Linked DNA regions of Homo sapiens. The protein of the gene in region 1 interacts with the protein of each later gene in a pairwise test. Each region holds a gene or a part of one and is shown on either strand. Other genes may lie near its edges.

The links.
Region 2: the proteins of NEK7 (region 1) and RAB3C interact in binary tests that used the Homo sapiens proteins (3 or more experiments, as listed by UniProt).

The regions. Positions count from the first base shown.
Region 1 is NC_000001.11:198,261,194-198,265,026, forward strand, and holds part of NEK7 (serine/threonine-protein kinase Nek7), read left to right. Parts: intron 1-1,381; coding exon 1,382-1,444; intron 1,445-2,931; coding exon 2,932-3,042; intron 3,043-3,833. UniProt on the Homo sapiens protein: Protein kinase which plays an important role in mitotic cell cycle progression. Required for microtubule nucleation activity of the centrosome, robust mitotic spindle formation and cytokinesis.
Region 2 is NC_000005.10:58,589,307-58,593,139, forward strand, and holds part of RAB3C (ras-related protein Rab-3C), read left to right. Parts: intron 1-3,833.

The DNA.
Region 1 (3,833 bases):
ACTTTGTACACACATATATTTTAATACTTATTAGCTAGTTGTGTATGCATTAGACTTTGTGACAGCCTGGCTCATTGAGAAAACACTGACTATGGAGCTAGAACAACCTGGCTTCAAGTCCTGATTCTGTCCTTTACTAGTTTTATGATCATAAGCATATTATTTAATCTTTTTGAGCCTCAATCCTCATCTTGTTATTGTGGCCAATACTACCTGTCTTATAAGATTGCAATGAAGTTTAAAGCATCATGTGTAAAGAGGCCAGCCCTCTCTGGTAGTGTCTAATAACTACTTCTTTAATTAAAAAGACTTGGATTCTGCCACTCCTTTGACATTGTACCTTCTTTTCCTGGAATGTTAGCTGGCTGAATCAGGAAGACTTGATCAAGCTGATTACTAAAAATGTCATTAATTTTTTTATTTGTTATGTAACTAGGGTTTTAATCAGCTTGCAGTACTGACTTAGATTTTTTTTGCAGTCTCTAAGATATTGCTTTTTTAAATGTTATTTTCCACACACTTAGAACCTTGAGAGATTTGTGTTTTCAGAGACACATGAAATATCTTTTTGATTGTATTTTTTATTTTTATGTTTTTAACAGTAGGTTAATATTTTTCAACCTTTTCTTCATTATCCTCCCCCCAAGCTGCCTGTTTAGACATTTCTTCCTAATTACCTCTACCCATGAAATTTTAATTCCACAAATACAGTATATCTGTTTATGTGTAGTACTGTATGTGTATCTATACTTTATACTTAATAGAGTAAAATTTTGTTACCCTTCTCCACAAAGAACCAATTTTCACCCCCTTGGAATGATATCACCCTTGTCAAGAATGCATGCATCAGACCTTTTAGACATGATTTGATGGAACAGATTAATGGTTCAGTGCTTGGGTTCTAGATGGATAACTCTGAGAATGAATTCTGCTTGCTCTGTTGATTAGCTGTGTGACCTTTTGTCATTCTCCTTAGCTTTCTAAAGCTTCTCTTCTTCATCTGTAAAATGGGAATACTACTATTATCATCCTCATAAGGTTGTGCAGTACATTTAGCATATATTAATTGCTCAACATATATTAGCTATTACTTTATCATCTTAATAATCACAACTTTAATTTTGTTCATTGGAACTTAAGACCTGAGTGTTAAGGGGTATCTACCTGTTCTCTTTATCCATTTTTTAAATACTGACTGCTGAAAATGTAAGCAATGTTGGTAACATAAGATACCTACAGAACTCCTTAATAAAGAAAAGCTAATCAGAAAGAAAATTCCTTAGTGTACAAATAATTACATGTAGAGTATTAAAATGAATTTACACAATAGCTTGAACCATAGGTTATTATTTTATTAAGTAATTCTGGGTTCTGTTTTTAGATATTTGATTTAATGGATGCCAAAGCACGTGCTGATTGCATCAAAGAAATAGATCTTCTTAAGGTAATTAATGAACTGTTGACTCTTTTGAACATAACATGGTGATAAAAGTGATTTACTAAAATATCACACTTAAACACAAAAAGGTTTTTAAGACTTATGCTACACTGATTTCAAGTAATATTATATAAGGTTAAATTTCAGTATACTGAAGAATGTAGTTATTTTTTGGATTTATTGTTAAATAACATAATCAGAACATTTGTAGGACCAGCTTTTTTTTCTCATTTCAAAGTAGGAAATAGATAAAATGGGCATAAAACATTGAAGAATTTTTTTTTCTTGACCACCCCAACAAGACATATTCTAAAGGTTAAGTAATATAAATGCAAATTAGCATTATCTCAACATGTATTATATTGAGAATGTGGACTAATCAAAATGGTTCACATGCATTTTCTAATGTTTCAATACTTTTTCCAGACTTAGACAGAGTGCATGTAAAGAGTATGCCAGGAATTAGCTTTTTAGTTTCTCATCTACTAAGAATATGACTGAGATTTCAGTTATTTCTGCACTGCTTCTTTTATAGTGAAGTTTCTTTTGAGAAATACTGCGGCCTATGTTGTATTTTTAACTTTTAGTTAAGACTTCGCTCTTTTTTTATGCCATCCGTTTGTGTTAGTGCCTAAAATGAACCAGATTTATGCAAAAAGGAAGAAAGTAAGGTCAAAACAATGTTTTCTGACTATTCTGTTAGTTGTAGTTATTTCTTGGCACATGAAGTAGCTGGCTTAAATATATGTAAACTTTTACTGTGGAAATAGCATGTCATCATAGAAAATTTGCAGCGAAAACTTTAAGTAGAAAGAAGAAAGTCACCCATACTTTCTGCATAATTTCTCAGAGAAACAATTCATCTTGTATTAATATGTTTAAAGATTGAACAAAAGGATTGCAAATGAGTAGGGACTGATACGTATATTTCTACAAGGTAAAATTTTTCTTAGGGATGATTTTATGAATTGGCTCACATGAATAAGTCCTGTATGTTATTTGATATAAAAGCAATAGTTAGATATAGTATAGTAGGTACCAGCTGTGTTTTGTCTACTAGCTGGAGTTATTCTAGGACCAACCATAACTTCCAAGTAGGAGTAAAAAGGGATACTTTATTTATCATTGAGTGTTCCTAAATGAAAGTTCTCATTTTGAGGATGTAATTTTTAGCAGTTGGCGACCTAATTCTATCATTTACTTCTTGCATCTGTTGATATGCTTATTGGGCATAGCAGTACTTTTAAATTAAGATTTAAACGTAAAATATATTCTTTCTAATAAAGAATATTAAGATAAATTAATTTATACCTAGTTTTACTTTTAATAATTGTAATATTTGTTTCACAATTCACTAAAGAAAAGTATACTGTCATGTTAAGATTTCTGTAATTTAAAAAATACGGTGAAGTTTGTTCTTAAGTACAAAACTATAAGTGACTCTTGGATATTTACAGTAAGAAAACTTTCTGATGCCTGTTTTATTTTCTCAGCAACTCAACCATCCAAATGTAATAAAATATTATGCATCATTCATTGAAGATAATGAACTAAACATAGTTTTGGAACTAGCAGATGCTGGCGACCTATCCAGAATGATCAAGGTAAGTTTTGAAAAAATTGTCTTAATGTTTTGTTTTGTTTTTTTTTCTAATAGAATTGTCTGTTAAACACATAGGGATATTAGATATTTTAAACTAAAGACCTCAATGCAAAGCTTATCTGATAGATATGTAACAAATAGTAGATGGTTAGTGATCATAATTCTGAAACTGGTTTACTTGGTGATGTTTACACTGATCAGCTTAAATATCTAAACACCCCAAAACCAACTTGGAAAGAGGCCAAGATACTTGTCTTCTGTAAGTTGAGTTAAAGTTTTGCTGTTTGATTCTCTGAGCAGACCATGCTTGATCCTGTGTCTCTGGACATGAGTAAAAGGAGGTAGAAAGAGACTCTAGAGCAGCTTGACCTGTTTCTTGGGGGGGAATCCATCAAAGAAAGTGGGATTTGCAGTCAGACCTTGGATATCAACCCCACATAAAAGTTGTTTAACCTTCTTTTCTAAGGGCATATTAATTCATAATTAATATAATTAAGTTGTTTAACCTTCTTTTCTAAGGGCATATTAATTGGGTTTAAGTTCAGCTGCAATTAATAGAAACCCTTAAATAATAGTAGCTTAAAAACTGTTTGTCCTTGGGCCAGTTACTTCTCTGTGTCACATTTTCTAAAAAACACAGTAATAATAGAACCTACTTTATAGGATTGTTGTAATGATTGAATTAATTAGTATTTATTAAGAGCTTAGAAGAATGCCTCACACATTGTAAGGCTATGTAAATGTATCTGCTGCTGCTATTATTATTGTTATTGTTATTATTTCTCTGTCACA
Region 2 (3,833 bases), on another chromosome or scaffold:
AAGCTTGATTATATTTTGTTAAGTATTTTTTTGCATTAGTCATGATGGATATTGGGCTATGATTTTCTCTTAATGCCTTCATGAAGTTATAGTATTGGAATTATGCTTATAAAACAAGCTGAGAAGTACTCTTTGCCCCTCAGTTTTCTGAATAATTTTGTTGCATAAGATTAGCATAGTTTGGTTTGTTAAATGTCTACTAGAGTTCACCATGAAGCCAGCGGAGCCTGGAGTTTTCTTTCTGAAAATTTTAAATAAGAGTTTTAATTTTTAAAGATTTCATTGATATACTAATATCTCTATTATCTATCTATGTATCTCCCTTTAGTATATTGTATTAGGCAGAATAGCATCCCTCCCAAAATTCTCCATGGCCTAACCCTGTAACGTGTGAATAGGTTACATTTTGTAACAGAATGGACTCCGCAGGTATAATTAATATTATAAACTTTCAAATAGGGAGATTAACCTGCATTATCAGGTTGGTCCAATCTAATTACAATACCTCTTAAAAGTAGAGAACTTTCTCTCATTGAATTTAGAGTGTTGTGGCAGAAGTCAGTTTCAAAACATGAAAAGAATTGTTGGGGTGAAGATGAAGAAGGCTGTGTGTCAAGGAAGCAGGGACCTCAGTCCTACAACCACCAGCAACTGGATTATGCTGACAATCTGAATGAGTTTGGAAGTGGAATCTTTCCTAGACTGTCCAGATCAAAGGCCAGTCCAGCCAACACATTGATTTTAGCTGGGTGGACCTGAGCAAAGTGAGCAGAGGACCTAGCTGAGATTTCTGGCTCAGAAAACAATAAGTGGGTGTGGTTTTAAATATCCATTATAGCTGCAATCGAAAACTAAATATGCATATAAAAATTTTTCTATTTCATTGTGAGTCAGTTTTGGTAAATTGTGTTTTTCACTTCATTTTTCCAATTTATTAACACAAAGTTGTTAAAAACATTTTTAATACCTTTTAAATATCTCTAGGATCTGTAGTGATATCCCCTTTCTTTCCTAATACTGATCATCTGAGGTTTCTCCGTCTCTCTCATGCCAGTCTTACTAAATGTTTATATCAGTATTAATGTCAACTTTTACCTTTGTTAATTTTATTTAGTTTGTATTTTATTGATTTTAGCTGTTGTTTTAAAAACTATATTTGTGTTTCTTATACTTACTTAGTAGAAGCTTTTCTTTATTTAGATTCTTAAGGTATAAATTTGGTTCACTTATTTATTTATTTATTTATTTATTTTGAAGGCAGAGTCTCACTCTGTTGCCCAGGCTGGAGTGCAGTGGCTGGATCTCAGCTCATTGCAATCTCTACCTCCTGGGTTCAAGCGATTCTCCTGCCTCAGCCTCCTGAGTAGCTGGGAACACAGGCGCCCACCACCACACCCAGCTAATTTTTGCATTTTTCGTAGAGACATAGGGTTTCACCATGTTGGCCAGGCTGGTCTTGAACTCCTGGCCTCAAGTGATCCACCTGCTTCAGCCTCCCAAAGTGCTGGGATTACAGGTGTGAGCCACTGTGCCTGTCAGGTCACTGATTTTAAATATTTCTTTTCTGCTAATAAATATAAGCACTAGAAATCATAAATTTCCCTCTAAGTACTGCTTAAGCTGGCAAGCACAAATTTCTGAATGTAGTATTTACATTACATTTTATTTCAAACTATTTGGCACTTATGATGTTTTTGTTTAATCCATGGGTTTAAAAGTATATTTAATTTCCAAATACTTGGGTATTTTTACAGATATTTTATTGATACTGATGACTAGTTAAATTCTATTGCTACTATGGAAGATATTCTTTAAGATTTTAATTTTCTAAAATTGTTGACTTGTTTTTAGTTCAGCATGTGGACTGACTTTATGAACATTCCATGTGTGCTTGTGTGTGCTGTAGTTGTGCAGTGTAGTAGTCTCTAAATATCATTAGGGTTATGGCATTGTGTGGTGTTGCTAAGACCTTTAATATCCTTATCGATTTTTGGTCTATTTATACTATCAATTACTGTTAAAGAGGTTTTCAAATCTCCAGCTATTATTGTCAATTTGCCTACTTATCCTTTTAGTTCTTTTGAGTTTTTTCATATATTTTGATACTCTGTTATTAGGTATACACACATAATTTTAAATGTGTCTGCCTGAGTAATTTTTCCTTTTATATTATGAAATGTCCCACTTTATCTCCAGCAATACTCCTTGTCTTAAAGTCTATATTGTCTGATATTAATAGAGAATGCAGACACTCTTGCCTTCTTAATAGTATTTTCATAGTATATATATATATATATATATAATTTTATTTATTTTCAACTTATATGTGTCTCTATATTTAAAGTGTGAATCTTGTGGTCAGTATAGAGTTGGGCTTTTCATTTTTTTCCAGTTTGAAAAATCACTGCCTTTTTCTTGGTCCATTTTCATATATTACAATTATCAGTATGATTGAATTTAAGTCTACCATTTTGTTTTTTTAATTTATTCTGTTTCTTTTTCTTTCTCTGTTTCGTTTTTATATTCTTTTTTGCTTAATTACATATTTTTAGGTATTTCAATTCCTGTATTGGCTTTTCTTTTCTTTTTCTATTTTTTTTTTTTTTTTCGAGATGGAGTTTTGCACTTGTTGCGCAGGCTGGAGTGCAGTGGCACGATCTCGGCTCACTGCAACCTCTGCCTCCCGGGTTCAAGCGATTCTCCTGCCTCAGCTTTCTGAGTAGCTGAAATTACAGGCATGTGCAACCACACCCAGCTAATTTTTGTATTTTTAGTAGAGACAGGGTTTCACCATGTTGGCCACACCCATCTCGAACTCCTGACCTCAGGTGATCCACCTGCGTCGGCCTCCTAAAGTGCTGGGATTACAGGCGTGAGCCACTGCACCCAGCCCTCTATGTTGGCTTTTCAACTGTGTATCTTTGTGTATTTTTGGTGTTTATCCTACGGATTACAATATGCATATTTAACTTATTATACAGTCTACTTAGAGTTAATATTATATTACTTCTCATAAAATATAGTAATTTTGCTATGATATAATTTCATTTACCTCATTCTTTGTGAAATTGTTGTCATATGTTACATCTATATTTGTTATAAATCTCCAATAAAGTTTTATAATTTTAGCTTTCAATAGCAATCTGTATTTTTTTAATTAAGAGAAGAAAAAATGTATATTTATTTGTGTTTGTCTTTCACCTATGTACCATTTCTGGTACATAGTTTCTATCTGGTATCATTTTTCTTCAGCCTGAACAACCTCGATTAGCATTTCCTGTAGGATAGATCTGCTGGCAATTCATTCTCTTAGTTTTTGTTCATCTGATAATGGTTTTTTAAAATTTTGCCTTCATTTTTGAATAAGAGTTTTGCCTGCATATAAAATTTCTTGTTGATTTTTTCAGCAATTTAAATATGCTGTTTCGTTGTCTGCTGATCTCCTTTATAATGTGAGTTCAGCTGTTCTTCATATTATTGTGCCCTTGTATGTAATGTCATTTTTTTCATCTGACTGTTTTCAAGATTTTCTGTTTAACTTTGAGTTTAAACAATTTGACTATAATGTGCCTAGATGTCGTTTTATTTATATTTAGTCAGATTGGCGAATTGGATAAGCTTCTCAGATACATAAGTTTATATTTTTCCCTAATTGGAAATATATTTAGCCATTACATCTTTAAGTATTTTTTCATCCAATTATTCTCTTCTTTTTCCTTTTGATATTGCCAATTACATGTATGTTAGAATTCTAATATCATCCCACAACTAACTGAGGCTCGGTTCATTAAAAAATTTTTCCTTTATATTTGTCAGATTGTATGATTTCTATT